Homo sapiens: one gene and its partner. The protein of the gene in region 1 binds, or shares a complex with, the protein of each later gene. Each region holds a gene or a part of one and is shown on either strand. Other genes may lie near its edges. The genes, in order: INHBA and FST. A codon is read from its position in the direction of its gene.

Region 1 (8,598 bases):
ACACTGTGTTTGTTTGGGGTTTCTTTTCTCCCCTCCAAAAAAGGAAGAAGGTGAAACCAGGAGACTGGGCAGAGAAAGAAAAAAAAATAGTGAACAAAATTAGGATAATTTATTTTAGAAGAGAAAGTAGAACCCCCGAAAATGGTGATATTTGAAGAGAGGTGTCTGTGAGGAAGCTAAGAGCAGAAGGAGAGCAGCCTGTCAGAAAACGGGCTGTCCCTCCCTCCCTAATCACAGCCCTACTCACAGCAAACTCCCTCCCTCTCCATTCACTCACTTACTTAGGGCCAATCCTTTCTCTCTCTCTCTCTCTCTCTCTCTCTCTCTCTCTCTTCCTTTCCCTCTCTCCCTCTCCCCCTCCCTTCCCTCCCTCTCTCCCTCTCTCTCCCCCTTCTTTCCCTCTCTCTTCTCTCCCCCTCTCTCCTCTCTCTCTGTCTCTGTCTCCCTCCCATCCTCTCTCTCTGTCTCTGTCTGTCTCCCCGCCACCCTGTCTCTCCCTCCCTCCCTGTCTCCCTCCCTCCCTCCCTCCTTCCTTCTCTCTTACTCGGAGACAGTCAGAACTCTCCTCCCTGACAGCCACAAACCTACAGCACTGACTGCATTCAGAGAGGAACCTGCAAACAAAACTTCACAGAAAACTTTTTGTTCTTGTTCCAGAGAATTTGCTGAAGAGGAGAAGGAAAAAAAAAACACCAAAAAAAAAAATAAAAAAATCCACACACACAAAAAAACCTGCGCGTGAGGGGGGAGGAAAAGCAGGGCCTTTTAAAAAGGCAATCACAACAACTTTTGCTGCCAGGATGCCCTTGCTTTGGCTGAGAGGATTTCTGTTGGCAAGTTGCTGGATTATAGTGAGGAGTTCCCCCACCCCAGGATCCGAGGGGCACAGCGCGGCCCCCGACTGTCCGTCCTGTGCGCTGGCCGCCCTCCCAAAGGATGTACCCAACTCTCAGCCAGAGATGGTGGAGGCCGTCAAGAAGCACATTTTAAACATGCTGCACTTGAAGAAGAGACCCGATGTCACCCAGCCGGTACCCAAGGCGGCGCTTCTGAACGCGATCAGAAAGCTTCATGTGGGCAAAGTCGGGGAGAACGGGTATGTGGAGATAGAGGATGACATTGGAAGGAGGGCAGAAATGAATGAACTTATGGAGCAGACCTCGGAGATCATCACGTTTGCCGAGTCAGGTTGGTGCTGGCATTGGCAGGGGGTGGGGAGGGGTGGGGGGTGGGAGGGTAAAATATATTTCTTTGACAGTCCCAGGAGGAACTTCTTTTCCCTTCAGCTGGAAACTGCCTGGGAAGGTTATTAGTTATTAGGTGATGGTAGCGGACTAGCCGACGGAGGGCAGGCAGGGGAGGGGGAGAGGACTTTACAGAAAAGGAATTCTCGGTCGAGCTCTGCCTGGAGATGACTGGCTTACACTTACTAAACCCAGCGGGTCACACAGAGAGGAAGCTCGGGGCCAATGTTGAGCTGGAAGGCAGACTGTGAGGGGCTGCCTTGCCCTGCCTGTGAAACCAGATCTGAGCAGCCGGAGGAAAGCCGCGGCATTTTCGGGTGCTAGGGGAGCAGAGGAGGCTTCCGGACCCCATCCAAGTTTTTATTGAGGGTAGAGGGGTGAATGTACCAGGATTGGAGTGGAATGGCACAGATGAAGTCACTCTCTTAAAACAAACCTTCCCCTTTAAAAGTCCAATCTGGGGCCACATTGGAGAAGCAGGGCATATTTATGAGTGACAGTCATTTTTACCTTTAGAAAATGTCTATAAGTGCACAGGCACCACATTCAAGACAGGGAAGAGCTACTTTGGGGGACAGTTGTCATTGAACCAGCAGTTACTTTTGGGACACTGACTTTTGCTCTCTGAAAGAAAAAAAAATAAATAAAACAACCAGTTTTGTTCTTTCTAAAGTTACTAAGAGCTCTCTGCCAAGGAACGCAACCTTGACAAAGTACTCTCAGATACTACGCTGAACTCACTCAATCCTTAAGAGGAAGAACTTTAATAAATAGATTCTAATCGTTGGCCCAGGACCACACTAACCTGTTGCTGAATAGCAATACCTGTCAAAAGTATGGGCCCATGGACTTGGAGCCAGGCTATTTTTATAGTTAAGTGACACAGATCCTTTGCATGCCTGCAAGCCCATGCACGTCAGGCACACAGATGTGTTAATACCGTGTTACTTTCATGGTAATGCCAGGCTAAAGAATTGCATCCTTTGCCAACTCCATTTGAAAGGAATGCCATTGTTTTGTTTGGTAGAGCATATGGCCAGTAAAGTATGTGCAGGGACTCCCAGCATTTTTGTTTAAAAGTTTGCCGCAGCAGTATAAACAATTAAGGCAACACTCAGAATTTCCAATCTGAAAACCTGTTGACTCAGATGTTCTGTTTTCAAGAAAACCATGAAAGACCAGGGCATCTTTCCGGGGGTGCAGATAGCCTGCTGGCTGTGTGGCTTCCCCTTGCAGGAGAAGCCCTGGTGTCCTACAAGCTTCCCAGTTTGGCTCTCTCACCAGAAGCCTCTCTCACTTAGGGAAGATCCTACTTTCTTTCCCTAAAGCTCTTTCTTAACCCAGCCCCAAAAGGCATGATCATTAGGACTTTATCTTCTGGAGCTTTTTGAGGAAGAAAGCTAGGTTGGAACTTTTCAAGTTGACACCCATTTTTTTTTCTCAACTTTTCATGGTGGGAAAAGGTAAAAAAGAAAATATTTACAATATTTGGCTGTGCATGTGAAACAGATTTCAGTGGTCTAGAGGGTTGCTTCCTGTCTTTGTATACCAACCTCCACACATGATGGATTCAATGACAGCTCGTATCCAGTTGCCTTTAACCATGTCATATGACTAAGTATACCTATGCCTTTGACCACTTTTAACCGCACTACCGTTACTAGCAATATGCCCCTCTTTCTGACTTACTGGACTTGTATAGCAAATCACTCTCTTAGCATTTAGAGATTTGGCAGTGAAAAAATTTGACCATTTACATTCTTTCTTATGTGTGGTCTTCCTTTCTGTGACAGTCTTCTCTCAGTTGTATGAGATCTTGTCATTTTTTTACTTCTCAGTTAGGTGTTTAGTTTGAAAAAAAATGAGCGACTTTTGAAAAAGCGATTCGTTGGACGTTCACATTGAGTCAAGTTTAAGATTTGTAATGGGAAACTCCTGGTTGACTTTACAACTTGACTTTGGATTCTTAGAAAACACTTATTACAATTGCTTATTTTTCTCTGAGGGATTTCACACATCAACTTCAAGTTGATTTAATGTAATTTCATGTATTTAATGATTGCTGTATGGACTGTCTACTCTTCAAGCAGAAAACCACGTGAGCATTTTGCTGCTGATTTTGCTAGTCCAGAAAAGACATTTATCATCCAAATGATTGTAGCAAATATATGAACATGAATAGAAAAGACCTATGTCTTGTTGCTTTTGGAATAATTCAACTTTAATAACATTCCAACTATGTGGAATGTCAAGAGTTTTTGGAGAATAGAAAAAGGAATGCATTTTTCTTTCCCTTATAACCATTTTGTGCAGCATAGAATCCAGACATTGTCACCCATGAGCATGCCACAGATGCAGACCCATAGCAGCCCCTTTCAACCTCAAGATTCTTCAATTTGAGGCTACGTTTAATTTTTGCCTTTTCTCTCCTTGATTGTTGGATAAAGCCAAGGCCTGGCTACAGAAGTAGAGAGCCTCCAAAAGCTGAAGTGCTGAGGACTCTTTTAACTGAGTTTGTCCCATCCTGTTTAGGTAGAAAGTGCTCAATTTTTGTAAAGTTGATGCGAGTTGTTATTGACTAAACAGCAGGGAATCACTCTAAGGCTCTCTGAAATGTATCCCAACAAACAAAAATTATTTTATTTTTATATATGTCACATCACCCAAGATTTCTCACCAAGGTTAGTGTGTTCTTTGCATGGCTGGCACAAAACCCTCAATGTTTTACCTTAAGGCCTACAGAGTTCTTCACAAGGAAAGATAGAAGGGATGGGTAAAGCCAAGCTATCACTATAAATGTCATGAAGCTAAATTCAGTGGCCTTTTCAGCTGATGCAGCTTATTTTTATTTTATTTTGACTCATGACAGTAGGTGGTCAATCAATGCATAATAATAATGTACCTCTAAGTCTCCATATGCTGTCAAACCTGGATGTGGGTTCTGGTAATTAGCTTAGCAATTGATAGCACTTGTTGTAGAAAGAATAGGGAAAGAAAGACAAATGACACACCAAGAAATGGATGTGCTCACGTAGCCTAGGTGTTGTTAAGCGCAACACATAAGTCTACCCCTTGGAGGATACTATGTATGGAAGATTTGAGTTAGAAGTTTGCACTGCCCAGACAGGGATCCAAGAAGCTTTGCTTGGATGACCATTTTCCCCACCCCAAGAAAGCCATCTCAAAATGAAGCTGACTCCCACCATTCCAATCCCACCTTCCGAACTTTTCTGTGAATCACCCCTCCTTTAGGGATGCCTTTAGGGGTTACACGCTCTCTTCCGTGAATAATGGGGAAGAGCGGCCACAAGAGGGCGCGTTCCAAAGACTTTTGCTCCTTGTCAGTGTATCCAGGGAAAGGCAGTTGCGCGTACTGGAAGCCCCTGTCTGTAGCGCCCTAATCTTGGTGATTATCAGTTACCGCCTGCTCCCTCTCATCCTGCAGAAAAAGTTAGGAATTTATGAGATGGGAGAAGCATGACTACCTGTAATACATTAAATGAGACAGAAGGAAAGGAAATGGAAATTCTAGTGATACATGTGAACATTCCGGAGCTCTATGGAAGGCAGACGAGTGATAAATTTCAAAAGCAAACAAAGCGGAGCAGGGAGAAATGTGACTATGAATCATCAGCGATACTGATTTGCTCACAAGTCTCTCCCTAATACGGTCTCCCGGGTCGTAACAAAAACATCTTCCATCTCCCCTGATTTTGTTGCCTAGTTTTCCTGCCTTATCAACAGTTTCCACCAGCGACAAATGACAAGTGACTTCAAACAGGGAGGAAAAAGGTTCTTTCTGTAATGCCTTGTGGGAACATGGTGTTCGGCTTCTGAGGATGCGTTTGTTTCCGAACTGAGGGTGTGGAGAGAAATGGTGGGAAAGATGGGAAAAGAGATTAATAGTGGTCTGCGGCCTGTGCAGTGGATGGACTGGGCTGGGGGTGGTGGAGATGCCAGGGTGGAAAGTCCGTTGTAATATTTAAAGAACTGCAGTAATACCTTCCCAGGCACTTTTCTTGAAAACACATATTTGTCTTGGCCCCTCTTCTGCTAAAAAATACTTGCACGTGATCTCCTAGCTGTAGTTCTGAATTCTTCGTACTCGACTGGTTCCTAAGTCCAAAATGAGAAGTGCCAAAGTTCTCAGGAACTTTGGAAGAAGTCTCTGAAATTTTGTGGGTTAAACCTTAAGAATTTTTGCTACTTGTAGGAACCTAAAACCCCTTTCTCCCAAAATATTTAACCTTTTTCATCACCACTTTAATGGAAGAGGCATGGATGATGGACGTTTGTGCCAGGGCATTTATAAATCAATAATGGACCCTAAGGAGGGAAATTAAAGCTAAAAAATTAATCAAGATAATTTATGGCCAAACCTATAGTTCTACTGCAGGAAAGATCCTCTACTGTAGGTCAAAGGAGGAATAACCTTAAGACCTCACTTGCTGCTTTCTGCAGAAACCCCTGGAAGCAGTCCAAATGCAAAGTTAGGGCTTCAGAGAATGCACCCTGTAAATGGTAGTTGTGTATACCCTTACCATTGACTATACCATATCTAGGCACAGTGAAATCTTGATGAAGAATGGAAAATTAAAGGAACAGACGCTTTTTACAGGGAGGCTTCCCCCAGCCCCCATCCCATGGTAAGTTTAAATGTGTTCTATAAACAACGAGGCTTTCCACATTCACATTAGAGACATAACTATTGCCCATATGTAAAAGAGCAACATATTTTAAGCAGGACCCTGGTGAGGAAAACAAAACCAAATCGAAACACTGCATGTGTGTGTTGCTTATTTAACTGAAAATGTTCATAGACCCACAAATCTGAGATGCTGGACTTTTGGATGAGTCCAGCATTTTGCATCTTAGTGTAGGGGGAGGGAACAACAAGGGGCTTAGTTGCTTAACCCTTGCCATGCCTTCATGATTGACTTATTCAAAACATTTTTAAAATTCTGAAAGCAAAGGAAAATGTGCTGCAAACACCCTTCCAGCTATCTTTCCTTCCAGCTTACACAGTCTCTCCTCTGTCCAATCCTTCCCACCCAGCAGCATTTCAGAGGTATTCCCTGTGAGGTACAAAATTTCTCTTTGCCCATTTTTCTGCACCTCTTTTTCTCTCTCTTTGGTATGTGTCCACCAAGCTCATAGAGGTTTAAGTGATGAAATATTATCACCCACATGGGTTTGCGTGGGACTTTCTTAGTGAATTACTCAGGCAGAGCAGGCTGTGATACAGCCTTGCTCACAAGCCTCGGGAGGGAAAAAATAGCACAGAGGATGAAAAGAATATTATTAGAGAGCAGGTAATGAAAGGTTCGCAAAGCAACCAGCTATATCTGGTTAGCTAGGTAATAGTGCAGGAACCTAGGTCGCACCTGTACAAACTAATGCAGAACCTGCTCACGGCGCACTATGGGAAGACATTCATTTCAAGAGTTTACAGCATGAGATATTTGAGTAAAACCTGAAACTGATTAGAAATTGATCCTGAACATCCCAGCCTTAGTCAACCTTCCCTTTTTCAAATTGTTATGCATGGAGATTGGAGGATTGGGGCATCTTGAAAGTGTCACTGCAGTATAGCAATCTCTCTCAGGTAATATAGAGATAAAGGGAATATAATAAATTGACCTGTTATTTATTATCTTTTTCATACCTAGGACATTCCGAGGCTTAATATATTTCTGAAGCCTACAGCCCTGATAAACATCAATCCCACGTCAGTTTCCAGCAGTCTCATCTCCCCACACCCTTCTGCAATGAAAGCTAATGTAAAAGAAAGAAATATGCACTGCTTAATAAGTCAGAATACAATAGAACTTGTAAAATGTACCTGCATATAAGGTAGACATTAGGAAGACTTGAATCTCTCTCTTCCCCCTGTTCTCCTGAGCATTATGGCAACAGCATTTTCATGAAATTAGATCTGTTTTATATTTTTTCCTGATAAAATATCATGCAATATACAAATAGCAGTTCCAGAAATGGACACCAGGAGAAGGAGGCGACAGGCATGTCAATTAGTAGGGGGAAAATCCAAATGTCAGAAATATGGGGGAGAGAGAAAGCACGCAGGCAGTGGATGCAAATACAGGGAACAGAGTCTTTCAATTCAGATAATTAAACGGATGCATAAATCAGCACCCTTGCCTCTCTACAATACGCAGGCGATGCCATGCAGTTAATTATCAGCCAAGACCAGCATGAAAGTCATTTTATGATGACTCTCTGATCCTAATATAACAGCACCTGACAGATTGAGCCCCCTCTAATGAGTACTCTCTTTGTACAATCCTCTCTCAGGAACACTAAATCATTTGCTTCCAAGTACAGCTGCCTGTGAAGAAGGGGTGGGGCTAGATCATGCATCAGAAACCTGCTCTTGTGAAATCAGGGGCTGTCCTGTAGGCTGTGTGACTGGAAGCCAGCAGCCTCAGCCTCTCTGGCCCTAAAAAAGCAATTTGCACACGGCTGTCCCTAATTCTAGTCAGCCAAGTAACCCTCCCTCGGCACCCCCACCTAAACATCTGTAGTCAGCCTTGGGTGTTATTCATGGAAAGTCCACTGCATGCGGGTCAGCACTGCTGTCCATCGGCTTCACCCTGACCCCTTCTGGCAGGTGTGGATGAGAGTAGAGCAGAGCTCATGGGGATGAGTTACCCCAAACCTATTAAGCCTCCCTATCCGGGGCACTAGTCAGACACTCCAGTTTTACACTCTTTCCTAGAAAAACAAAACCCAACCTTGTGCCCTCTGGGTTCTCTAATTTAGCAGCTACTATCTGTCTGTTTTTGGAGTGACACCCTGTGCAGTTTAGGATTTCAGAAGCTGTCCTGCATAGAGGCAGAAGGGAAAACAGCAGGTATCTTGTTAACATTCTCTATGGGGCAAGGCAGATGTGCCCAAGCTGGAGGAAACCTGCACACCCTCCAGGCTAGTTATCCAAGGCTTGGGAGGTTTCCCTCGGCCTTCTCCTAAGGCCTTGGCAGGACCCTGCCACCCTAAAATCAACTGCTGATTGCCTTTTTAGATTTAAATGATTAAGCTCTGCTTATGGGAATCTTCTTCTCTTTTATTTTGTTAAGAAACAAACAACAACAACAAAACCCACACCAATTCTTAGCAAAGGGGAATATCGAATTCAGATTTTGAAAAAATAAGTCATCATGCTTCCTAAAATAAGACAGCTTCTCCCTCTAACTGCTCTCTCTGCTCTGGTATTCTATCTAATCATAAACCCAGCTTTATTATTCATTTCAACTCCTGCCAAAGACATGAGGTCGGAGTCAGAGGAACTCCCCTTACCACCGCCACCATCATCATGGCCAGCATCCTCGTAAGTTTA
Region 2 (11,953 bases), on another chromosome or scaffold:
CAATCAACAGAATCTATCAATTCTACCTGATAATTATATCTTGAAGGTAACCCTTTTACCACCTTTAATGCCTTCCCATTTATTTCCACAGTTCAAGTGGGGAGAGAGTTTCTAAGTGAAAAGGGACCTATGCCACCTTCTACTTACAATATTCCCATGGATTTCCTCTGGAATACCAGTAAGCCCAAGATTTTACAAGAGCTTATATAATCTAGACCATCCACTTATTCATTTTCCTCAATTTCCACTCTCCTTCTCAAACTCTGTGCTTTGGTCATTACTAAACTACTTTTGGTTCCTCATATGATTCCTTTCTTGCCTCCTGGGCTTTGCAAATACTCTTCCATCTCTCCACAAGCACTGCCTTCTCCTGGCTAACCCCTCCTCAACCAAAAATTACAGCTAAAGGTCACTTCATCAAGAAGGCTTTCCTTGACCCTCTTCCTCATAATGTATTGAATAGTACTTACTTATTTAATATCTGCCTTCTCTTTCATCCTAAAATCTCCAAGAAAGCCACAACTAGATTAGTCTTGTTTGCTTCTCTATCTTCATCAGAGAATTTAGAAAATGTAATTGATTTTTTATGCTTGCATGTTTTATGTTCTTCAGCTTTAGTTTTTATGAATAACAGTAGAAAAAACATTATCTTTAAAAGTATCTTAGGTTGCTTAGAATATGGGAGTAATTACAGATCTGTTTCTTTTTCTCATTAATCCTTGGGAAGCCTAAATTACAATCACTTCCTAGAAGCTAGGCAGTAAAGTACTTCTGACTCAGCCTTGCCCTATTGTTTTTTGGAGGGATCTAGGAAGTGGTGATAATAACACTTACCTGGCAGAGCAGTTAAAAAAAATAGAGATGACGTATTTCATATGTCTAGCATGGAATGGGCACTAAAACATGGTAGCTATTATTAAAGAATAAAATAATAGATATATGCATGGATTTCAGAGTGCCTGTGACCTCCTTAAAATGAATGCAACATTTTGTGTGGCTGTGTATGTGTTTGTGTCTGTCTGCTATTCTGGGGAGATGGTCCATATCTTTCAATAGCTTCTCAAGGGGACTGGGAACAAGAAAAAGTTAAGAATACTGCCTAATGGTTTTATTCAGGAAATCTGGTGCTCTGGCAAAAATGAAAATGTTGACAGTGTGATTGTTGTGTCATCTGGCTGGCCAAAGCAATGTTTTCTGCTAAAGCAAAAATTAGAAGTATTGGGGCCAAAATGATCTCAACTAAATGGTTCTTCTACACTATGTTTCCATCTGCCCAGCATGTGAGCCATTAACACATGTTTCCTGTTGACGATTTTCATATCTTTATTTGCAAGGAAACTGCACTGAGACCAGTTCAAGAGAATCATTTATTTAATGTATTGAAAAACCAAATAAATGAACTTCCTGTATATATACTCATGATTTTATATTGCTAAAAAGTGACTATTTATGGGACATTAAGCACACATTGACCAAGACTGCCTTTAAGTAATTCATCTAGTAGTTCTCATTATACATGTGTGTGTATATATATGTTTAGTCCAAAAAATAGCAAGTCTCACCATGTGTTGAAATAATTTATTTCAACACTTAATGCATCACCTGTCCCGTATTTCCACATGTTGTGTCATCACCATTTGACCTCAACCCATTGTTAAATATTTAATAGTACTGTTGGATAAACGATACAAAGTATTGTTTACTTTTGAATGTGGCATTTACATGAAAAACCAAATAAGCCAATACATGCTACAAAAGGTACAAGTTTAGGGTATAGCACTAGCCCTTCTGGTGGATGCAAAACGAGATATAAGGGGAAAGTAAACTACAGAGAGGATGAATGGGTCAGGGAGAGCAATAACAACAGAAAAGATGCCATAACTCTCCAATAAAGAATAAAGGCAGAAAGTAACTGCCACCCAAATGTTGGCATAATGGAAACTGCATGTTTCCATCTCTCAGAACTTAAACACAATAATGGATAGTTTTGAGGAGGAGTCTATTTGCATGAACATGATGAAATAATACTCAACAAAACACTAACTAATAGAGAATTATTCTTAACACTCACTGAGTGTAAATCTCATGGTGATGAAGATTATTCATTTAAAGGAGTGACTATGGTCTAAAAGAAACACCAAAAGAGTGCATGCCAGAGATTTTGATGAGTCAGCACACCACTCCTGGTAAGTGTGCTCAATACACTCTTTTTGACTGACCATAGACAATCAGCTTGGGGAAGTCTGAAAACAAGTATCAGCCTACACCAGGAAATCTTTATAACCTATTGAGGTCCTTTGAGACACAGAGCTTAAAATGACATATAATATCCTACTTCAGCATGTTTTTCAATGACAGCCAAAATAAAAAAACACACACACACACTACAGTTGAGAGAAGCTAAAGAAGAGTTATGTAAATACAAAGACATACCATGTTATTGGTTTTGAAGACTCAATATTGTTAAAATGTCATTCTCACCAAATTGATCTACCCTAATCATAATCCCATCGAGCTTTTTTTGCAAAATCAACAAACAGATTCTAAAAGTTATATAAAAATACAAGTAGGATATTCAAAGTGATCTTGAAAAAAAAGAAAAAGTTGTAGGAATTACACTACCTGTCTTCATGACTTACTATAAAGTCACATTAATCATGATAGTGTGGTACCAGCATAGAATCAACAAATAGATCAACGGAACATAAGAGAGAGCCCAGAAATAGATACACACTTACGAAGCTCTTTGATTTTTTACAAAGGTGCAAAGGAAAAGTGCAAAATTGATTTGGAATGAATTCCCCGTTGAGGAACAATGACTGTCTTAGCTCATGCTGCTGCTATAACAAAATATCTTAGATTTGATAATTTTATAAACAACAGAAATATATTGCTCATGATTCTGGAGGCTAGGAAGTCCAAGATCAAGGTGCCAGCAGATTCAGTGTATGGTAAGACTCACTCTCTGCTTCCAAGACTAACTGAAAATTCTACAAGATGATGAAATAGGATATTCAAAATCATGTTCTACTAACTTGTAAAATTTGAATTTACTGTAAACATAATTGAGGATAGCAAAGATCACCTGGTGACTATCAAGCAGGCCATCCAGAGACAAAATTCCTTATCTGAGGGATTCAGAAGTAATTCGACTTTCCCATTATCTAAACCAGGCATATGGTTCCAGGTTTCCCTCCCAAAAATTTGTTAAGTAACTTGTATGCATATTGAAACTCATTGTGCAACCCTTGCTGACATTAAGGCACCAAGGTATCTACAAACGTTATTGTTTAACATGACCTACATGGCTAATGTGGTCCAAATTACTCTTAAGCTCCTGCTTTAAGGTCCATAAATACCCCTAAGGAAAAATCTACCAAAACACTCTGGGTCCTCTCTTGCTGAGAGGCTCTGCTGCACTTCTTCTGCAGCATTCTTTCTTTCTAATAAAACTATCCTTTTTCAAACCTACACTGTCATCAGTAAATTCTTCTTACCAACCCACAGGTTGACCACTTTTCAATGCCAGGCCTCTGACATCTCGCCTGGCAACAGTATCTCACTTCTTAATTTACCATTCAGCATCAGAAATGAGACAGGATTCATGTCAAATTAAAAAGTGGGGTGACAATATGATGGATGATCAAACAGCAATTGTATCAACTACTGATGGTAATATTAAATAGGCAAATACCTAGAGAAGAACTAGTTATTAAGTGTGCAAACCACTGCTACTCTATGGAAAGCTAAAATAAGGGACCAGAAAATAAAACATACCAAAGTAACTACAGCATGCTACTCACCTTCAGCCAATGAATAATCCAGGAAGGTGGCTCTTACTTTGATTGACACGTTGTTTCCAACATAAAGTAGGGGAAACTGAACAGCAAATCCTAGTTTGCCCTCCTCACACCTTCTATGCAGTTGAAAGTGTAAATGGAATCAGGGTTAAAAGTGCTAAAGGTCACACACAGATATTTTCAGTCATATCCAAATATATGAATCATTTATGTTGTCAAAGCGACCTAAAATACTTTAGAATTTTCTATTAATCCAATGTAACATCCCCATTCTAAGGCATAATTTGAATTATTTACTAAGATTTATTTTAACTACTTAATTATGTTGAACTTGAATATATTAATATGGCTAGTTTAAGTGACTATGTGACAACTAGCTTAGCTGACTTCTGGAAACCCAAAAATATTTCTAAAATTAAAGGGGAAAGCAAGGCAATAAAAATGTTACACAGAAACAAGTAGTATCAAAAAGGAAGAGCTATCCATGATTGATCAGCTCTGTATAACACCAAAGCAACACTGAAAAGAGAAAAGTTCAAGTAATCCGTTGTTTTCTCAGTTATATATATATATATATATATATATTACATAAAACATATTTTTCTAATGATTTTTTAAAACCTTAATTGACCGGTAGTTTGGATATCTTGGGTAAACATTGCTTCTACGTACTCACATTTCTTAACTTTTTAGTTCTGTAATGATTCAACCAATACAGAACTACTGCCCCCATCCCCCTACTCAAATCCTTATGCTAGCCTATGAAGTTGCATAATGCCAAAGACTATGACACATTAAGTAACTGTTTTGTACCTAGAATAAAATCTGATTTTAAAATCATTTTAGCCTATTTTTCAAATGCTTAACTTTTGTTGTTTAATCAAGATTGATTATTTGCACTTGAAAATGTATTCATTTTGCAAAACACCTAACTTCAAAAAAAGCTTGACATTTAATCTTAAGGCAAAAAAAAAAAAAAAGCTACTCAGTTCATGACTTTCAAATAGTCTCTACATAACCTCACCCCACTCCCTCCATATTCTCTTTTTAGGTACTGAAATTTAACCAGGTCAGTTCTGGTCTCAAATAACAATGTCATATGAGTTTAAATAGCTATCTAGGGAGTTAGATTGAATCATTTGCTAAACTCTAATATTTTAAATTTATAAACTTCAGAAGGAAGACAGCTTTTGAAGCTGACAAAAGACCAATCAGAAAACAGTAGTCTTTTTGTGTGCTGCCCAGAAATTCAGCTACAAAGTGGTCCTATTGTGTTTCTCATAATTTACATTTTTATTTGGCAGAGCAGAAAGGAAAAATAAGAAGTCAAACTTGGAGGCATACAACAAAAATGAAAGGCGACATTTTTATTTTAAAATGTCCCCTTGACATTTAGATATCTACAAACCCAATATTTAACATTTACAGGCGATATAACAGTAAAAGAAATAGCAGCTGTTTTTCTGTGATGTCACTGAACAGGTGTGGTACCATTTCATACCACAGAAATGGGATGGATCTCTTGCTGATGCCCACAGAAAGCCTATAAGGAACCAGTATTGACCTGTGTCTCATTTCCTCAGTTATGATCTGAAAATAACCCTAGATGGCAAGAGTCATGGTGACTGATCTGTGCTGATTTGGAGCAGACATTCTCCCAAACAGATCAATACTATCCAAGGTGCAGCTGAAAAACAGGATGAGCTTGTATCACTAAACAAACACCAAGCTGCTTATTCAAAAGGGCAAAAGCAACACAGCACTTATGTTTTCCACAGTGTGTTTGCCAGTGACCTCAACCCTGACCTGCAGGGTCACCTTCTCTGGGACGAGAAGTAATCCTGTGTTGGGTCACCCTCTGGTACTGAGGGACTCCTATTTGTGGTGCCATTTTTTACAATGAGAGCTACTGTGTCTGCTTTGGCTTAGCCAAGACAATTACATGATGCCAAAACAACTAGTCAAGGCAGTCAATTTAGTCAAATGACTGGTCTGAGCATTTGGCATTACATAGACAAAAAATGAAATAGAAATGAAATTTTTACTTTTACCCAATCATACTGGAATTGTGAGGATACAACTTAAATTAATTTAGAAAGTTTTTGTGACATCAGTTGTTTCTATATACATAAACTAAAATAAGTATCTGGACAAACTAAATAGTTTTGCTCAAACATGGAAAATTTTTTGACTAGCCCCTCCAAATTGCTTCTATTCTAATCTTCATTTAGCTACACAGACCTTCCCCCAAAAAGGTAATCTTTGTGTATACTTGTATGACCCTTTTACATCAACATGTTATATGTACATATAGGAATGAACAAAATTAAAATCTAATAAGAACATACAAGTTATATCACTATTCTCCTTGCTATACGGTTATAAAATATGATGAGATTATGAACTTTAAAACAATCTTCCCAAAGATATTGAGAAAATAAATATGGATTAAAACGTGATTCTATATTTCTCCAGGCAAGATGACTTCATATACAACTAGGCATATAAGTAAAATTTAAATATTTTGTATAGTCCTAGGGTGGAAAGTCTAAGAAAAAGACCCCAGTTTCCAGAGGCTACTGGCCAATTCAGGACCAATAAATATATTTAAACTGGAGACAAATATAAAATCATGTAATTATGTATGATCATTGATAGCATTGCTGTAAGATCCAGTTACTTACCATCTGAGATCTTTTATGCATTTGGAATGTTTATTTTTCAACCTTGGATATACGGTTTGATACCTCTACCTTAAAAAGAAGCTGTGTCTCTTGCTGCCATTAAAAGACAGGGTAGGGGGAAAAGTCAAGTAACAATACTTGTTAGCTTCTCTTTCCTTTAACTTATCCCTGGGCAGGGGTGGGGGAACCTTTAAGCAGAGAAAACAAACTTTCCCTCCAGCACATCATTGTATAAGGACTATACCATTTCTCTGAATAAAGAAGAAATAAATTCAGCTTTGGAACTCTGCCATTGAGTGGCGGCTCCTGCAAAGGGGACAGTTTGCTATTAATTGTTAATGTCGTCTGCCATTAGAGGGCACTAAACAACTCTACATTAATGAGTTGGAGGGAAGAGAGAAAAGGAGACTGGAAAAGAAAGAGAGGGAGAAAAGGGAGGGAGAGTACGGGTAGAGTCTGGGTAGAGGGAGGGAAGGAGAGAAGAGGGGAAGGAGTAGGGGAAAGAGAGCAGAGGGAATGAGTTGGAGGACTGGAGGGAAAGGGAGAAGGGGAGAGAGACAGCGAGACAGAAACAGACAGAATGATTCTGGAAAGATTAAGAAGGATGTGGAGCCCCCACAGCCGTCTGAAGTGAGCAAAATCCAGTCTCCCCCGGGCCGCCCGAGCCCCTCCCCTCCCGTCCTCATGACGGTAATTATAAAGCGAAAAGCGGCGGCGAGGTCACCCGCTTTTACCAGCCTGCTGCACCGAATGCGCGCGGTGCAGGTGCGGCGGCCGCGGGGCTTTGTGATTCATGCCCACTTTCAAAGGGGGGCTTGGGCCCGTCTGAGAGGCACCCAAACAACTGTCTTCTAATATTAGCACGGCTGTATTTCGGGATCTATTATAGTCTGTCCAGACAGATCCCATTGTAATGGGATCTTTTATTAAAAGATTAGCACTATCTCCTGCAGTTGGTGGAAAAAAATCTGTTATCACTGAGTTATTTGCAGTTGTGGAGGGGGGAAGGTTGACGGAAGATGGGGGGTGGGAGGGCTAGAGGAGGACTGGGGGAGGGTCTGGCGGGGGGAGGGCAGTTGCAGGGGGGGAAGAAGGGCAGATTTGAAATTCGTAGAACAAATCCCAGTGACCTGCGAATGTCCAAGAATTTTGTCTGCATACTTCGCTATCTGTTGTCCTTCGGGCTTCAGATGCGAAAAGAACAAATTTAAAAGGCAGCTTTGGAATAAACAATATAGCATTTTCCGTGAAGTAATCGTTTTATATAAAAGGAAATATCGCCTCCTCAGTTTCATTCAGCGGTGCCAAAAATGTTATAAATGAGAGACCCGCCAACTTTCAGCGAAGAATGCCAGGCACTGTACTTAATAAACTGAGGCTACAGAAGTTCATTATGGATGTTGCAATCTTTTTTATTCCGCGAAAAGAGAGAAGACGAGACAGAAAGAGAGAGAGATTGGAGCCGAGGAGACTGAGAGACAGACAGAGGCACACAGGACAGAAACTGGGGAGTCTCCAGGCGGGAGAGGAAGGGGGGGCCAGACCGCCTACGTCGGCGCCCCCGCTCCGGGCTCCGACTCCAGACGCCGCGAAGTGAAAGGGGAGAAAAGAAAGGGAGAGGGCGAGGCTGTGCCGCGGGGAGACCGGGCCTGAGGTGTTAAACATTTTTGTTTGCTTCCGACTAGTCCAGACGAAGGGCCGCGTCTCGGTAGCGCTCTGCCAGGGTGGAAGGTGCCGGGGCCGGGGTTCCTAGCAACACCTCTGGGCTGGGGGTGGCTGCAAAGTCAGGCACTCACAGACCCAGACACAAAACCTCGCGGGTCCCGCGCCCAGGCTGCGGGTGCCCGGAACCGCCGCGAGGCCGGCGCGCTCCGACCCGACCCGGGGCGGGATATTTGGGCAGCCCGGGGCTCTTCGGCCGTTTGCAAAAGTCTCTTTGGAGCGGAGGAGAGGCAGCACGGAGACAAACTCCCGGGTTCCCCCCGCCACCGCCTCCAGCGCCCCCACCGCGCCCTCCCTCTCACACTCGCGCGCGCGCGCACACACACTCACACACACACTCACACACACACCCGCCACCCCGGGCGCGCCGGCGCTGCCGGCGAGCGGCGGCGAGCAGGACTTGAAGTGGGTGTTCTTCCCCACTCCCCACCCCCGACGCGTAGCCCCCAACCCCCGCCCCGGTCGCCTTCCCCCTCCCTCTCGCTCCTACGCAAATAAGAACTCGACGATTCCCTTCCAGCCGTTTTGATTTCGGGCACCTCCGAAAGATAATTGGGAAGGGTTTCCAGAAGGTGGGAAATGTCACCTGATTCACACTGAACTTTTGAAAGCTCCCCACCCCCAAGGAGCCGCGCACACCCTCGCTCGCGGCCGCCCTCCCACAGCCCCACACACTGGGAGACCGCCCACCGCAAACCGCGGAGACCCCCGTCTAGATTTAAAGCGCGGCTGCGCCCGGCTTCTGACGTCCATTGAATCGCGCGGGCGGCCGGCGGCGAGCGCGGGGCTGCGCCGGGATCGCTGCGCCCTCCGCCGCTGGCCTCTGCGACGCGCGCCGCTCGCCCGAGCCACCCGCCGCCGCGCCGGCTCCCCGCGCCGCTGCGCTCCTCGCCCCGCGCCTGCCCCCAGGATGGTCCGCGCGAGGCACCAGCCGGGTGGGCTTTGCCTCCTGCTGCTGCTGCTCTGCCAGTTCATGGAGGACCGCAGTGCCCAGGGTAAGCGAGTGGGGATGCGCTGGGGAGGCTTGGCTGAGGACAGGGGGGTCGACTTTTCTGTGGTCTCCACTTGGTCTGTTCTGAGCAACGCTGCTCTCGGAAGATGTTGAACCAACTTGGGGACTCCGGGATGGAGAGGAGTGGGAAAATTGTAGGCAATGACACTTTAGGACTGGGAACTGAGTTTGGAGCTCGGTTATCTTGAAAAAGGAAAGGGAGCGAGCTGGGGTCTTAGTAGTTAGGGTTAAATGCTCCAAGTTCTGGCCATGATAACTTTAGATGTGATCTCCTCTGTTTGGCTCTGAAGAAGGGAACAAGTATCAGTAGTAGCCTGGAGATTTCAGTCGACCCATTTGCAGTCTCATCTCTCTCCCTCCCACATCTTTTGGATACTTAAAAAAAAAAAAGGAAAGAAAGAAAAGAAAACCTGGGGGTTTGGGGGAGAGATACTGAATTTTATTTGGTGGCTGGGGGACGTGGTTTCAGAAACTTTGCCCAAACTTGGAAATGTGGGTGCTGAAGATTTTCAAGGGAAGTAGCTTTCTGCCTAGTGGATGCTTCTTCCAACCCCATCCCCCATTCTCGCAAAAAAAAAAAAAAAAAAAAAAAAGCCAAATTATTACCCCAAAGTGCTTTGAGCACTTTACAGTTTTTTTCCCCTCTGCCTCATTCTTCTTTCTGACCCTTAGCTTTCTGTAAAACAGTGAGCAGCCCATAACTGACTTAAATTCTGAAATGGGTTAAGAGCAAATTTCTGAAGCTTGCCTTTTAAAAATAGATTTGTTTATTTCAATTAGTCTTTGGGCAGAATGTTTAAAATAATAATAGCAGCTTGCGATCCAATGATTGTTAAAGTCATATTGGTGATTCATGAGAAGTCTTCTCGACCCAAATCCGAACATTAAAAAGGGGGAAGAGGGAGAAATCACTTGCAAATATTTCTTGCTAGGTATGAGATAGGTACTTATAACCGTGAAATGGTAGGAAGACTCCCCCCTCCCCCCACCTTAAGGCATTACTTTCCCTGCTTCAGCGTTAACATTTTAAGTATGTTGTAAACTGCCCTCCTGGGCACTGCCCCTCGCCGTCTGCATGGCACTGCGCTGGGTTGCCCGCCTTTAGAGGAGAGGCTCTGCCTGGTGCCCGGACGTGGGCGCGGAGGAAAGCAGCCCTCGGAGATTTCGAAAGATCGCGGTGGCCGCGGGCGTGCTCCGGTCTGGCGGATTGCAAAACGGGCCCGTCGGGCTGGCTGCGCCTGGAGGCCGCGCGGGGTAGCTCCGGGCTGGGCCGGGTTGCTTTTTTGCTTTCATTTTTCAGAAGTGCCTTTTGCTTGATCTGTTTCTCTCTCTCTCTCTTTCTTTTCTTTCTTCCTCTCTCTCTTTCTTTCTTCCTTTTTTTCTTTCTTTCTCTTTCTTTTCTTTCTTTCTCTTCTTTCTTTTCTTTCTTTCTTTCTCTTTCCTTCTCCCTCTCTCTCCCCTCCATCTCTCCTCTCTCCTCTCTCTCGTTCTCTTACTTTCTTAACCCCTGTCACAAATAATTCCTGTACCCGCCTACATGAAACCAGCATGTAAAAACATCCGTCGCATCCTGTTTTTGTCAGGTTCTTTAATCTGCTCTTCGAGTCTCTGCAGGTTATGAAATGGGACGAATAAAAGTAAACAGTCTAGTAAAAGTCAATGCAAGCTGCACGTGTTGTGTCTGGGTCACTGGTAACTGACATTGATATGGCTGGGGCGCCCTGTCTTCTCCCTCTCTCCCTCCCTCCCTCTCGCCCACCTCCCATCTCTGTGATCAGGGCTTCCCCCTCCACTGCCTTCTTTTTCCACCCCTCCACCCCTTTCGATTTATTTCCTACTTTTCTCCCGCGTCTCTCTCACTTCCCCTCCTCCACGCTCACCCCCTCCCCATCCCCGCCGGGTCTCCTTCGCTAGCCACCTCGCTCTCCCTGCCCTGCCACCGCTCACTGCTCACTCACCCACCTCCCCACCCTTGTCTCTTCACAGCTGGGAACTGCTGGCTCCGTCAAGCGAAGAACGGCCGCTGCCAGGTCCTGTACAAGACCGAACTGAGCAAGGAGGAGTGCTGCAGCACCGGCCGGCTGAGCACCTCGTGGACCGAGGAGGACGTGAATGACAACACACTCTTCAAGTGGATGATTTTCAACGGGGGCGCCCCCAACTGCATCCCCTGTAAAGGTAGGACTCCTTCTTCCCAACTTGCAGGCCCTCAGTAGAGGGCGTCTTACCCTTAGCTTCCCCACTACCTGACTGGGGTTTGGGAGTAGGAGAGCTTTGTTCCTGGGCTTCCCCTTCCTGTCCCTTGCCCTGGTAAGCCGTGCAGACTCTAATTCTGCCTGTTACAGGCTGTAGGGAATACACGCCAGACTTCTTAGCCAAGTGTGGTGGTGAAACCCACCAACCTGTGCTCCTTAATGAGAGAGATCTGGGTGTGGGGCACAGCCCAAGGTCCACACTCTTTCACCAACTCCCAATATTCCAGGAGAGAGCCTGGGGCCCCTCCAGCGCAAACTCAGGGCTGCATGATTGCGCAAGGCACCCGAAGCCCTCCTGGCTGACCTGCAGACTGCCTGGCTCTGGTTTTAATCCATGCCTGTTTCTAACTCACAGAAACGTGTGAGAACGTGGACTGTGGACCTGGGAAAAAATGCCGAATGAACAAGAAGAACAAACCCCGCTGCGTCTGCGCCCCGGATTGTTCCAACATCACCTGGAAGGGTCCAGTCTGCGGGCTG

The links.
Region 2: the proteins of INHBA (region 1) and FST are in contact, whole or in part, in a crystal structure (PDB 2P6A), measured with the Homo sapiens proteins. Residues at the interface, in NP_002183.1 of Homo sapiens: Asp315, Phe327, Asp337, Trp338, Ile340, Ala341, Gly344, Tyr345, His346, Gly360, Thr361, Gly363, Phe368, Thr371, Arg397, Ser400, Leu402, Tyr404, Asp405, Asp406, Gly407, Gln408, Asn409, Ile410, Ile411, Lys412; in NP_037541.1 of Homo sapiens: Trp33 (codon at 11,216), Arg35 (codon at 11,222), Val44 (codon at 11,249), Leu45 (codon at 11,252), Arg60 (codon at 11,297), Phe76 (codon at 11,345), Met79 (codon at 11,354), Asp135, Glu152, Pro154, Glu155, Val180, Val181, Asp182, Gln183, Tyr188, Val190, Arg221, Thr224, Cys225, Arg229, Ser230, Ile231, Gly232, Leu233, Glu328.

What each region holds. Positions count from the first base shown.
Region 1 is NC_000007.14:41,692,577-41,701,174, reverse strand, and holds part of INHBA (inhibin beta A chain preproprotein), read left to right. Parts: intron 1-657; 5' UTR 658-800; coding exon 801-1,188; intron 1,189-7,086; exon of another isoform or gene 7,087-7,256; intron 7,257-8,598. UniProt on the Homo sapiens protein: Inhibins/activins are involved in regulating a number of diverse functions such as hypothalamic and pituitary hormone secretion, gonadal hormone secretion, germ cell development and maturation, erythroid differentiation, insulin secretion, nerve cell survival, embryonic axial development or bone growth, depending on their subunit composition.
Region 2 is NC_000005.10:53,471,676-53,483,628, forward strand, and holds the start of FST (follistatin isoform FST344 precursor), read left to right. Parts: upstream 1-8,953; 5' UTR 8,954-9,116; coding exon 9,117-9,201; intron 9,202-10,656; exon of another isoform or gene 10,657-10,840; coding exon of another isoform or gene 10,841-10,910; intron 10,911-11,204; coding exon 11,205-11,396; intron 11,397-11,828; coding exon 11,829-11,953. UniProt on the Homo sapiens protein: Multifunctional regulatory protein whose primary function is to antagonize members of the transforming growth factor beta (TGF-beta) superfamily including activin, myostatin, GDF11 or bone morphogenetic proteins (BMPs).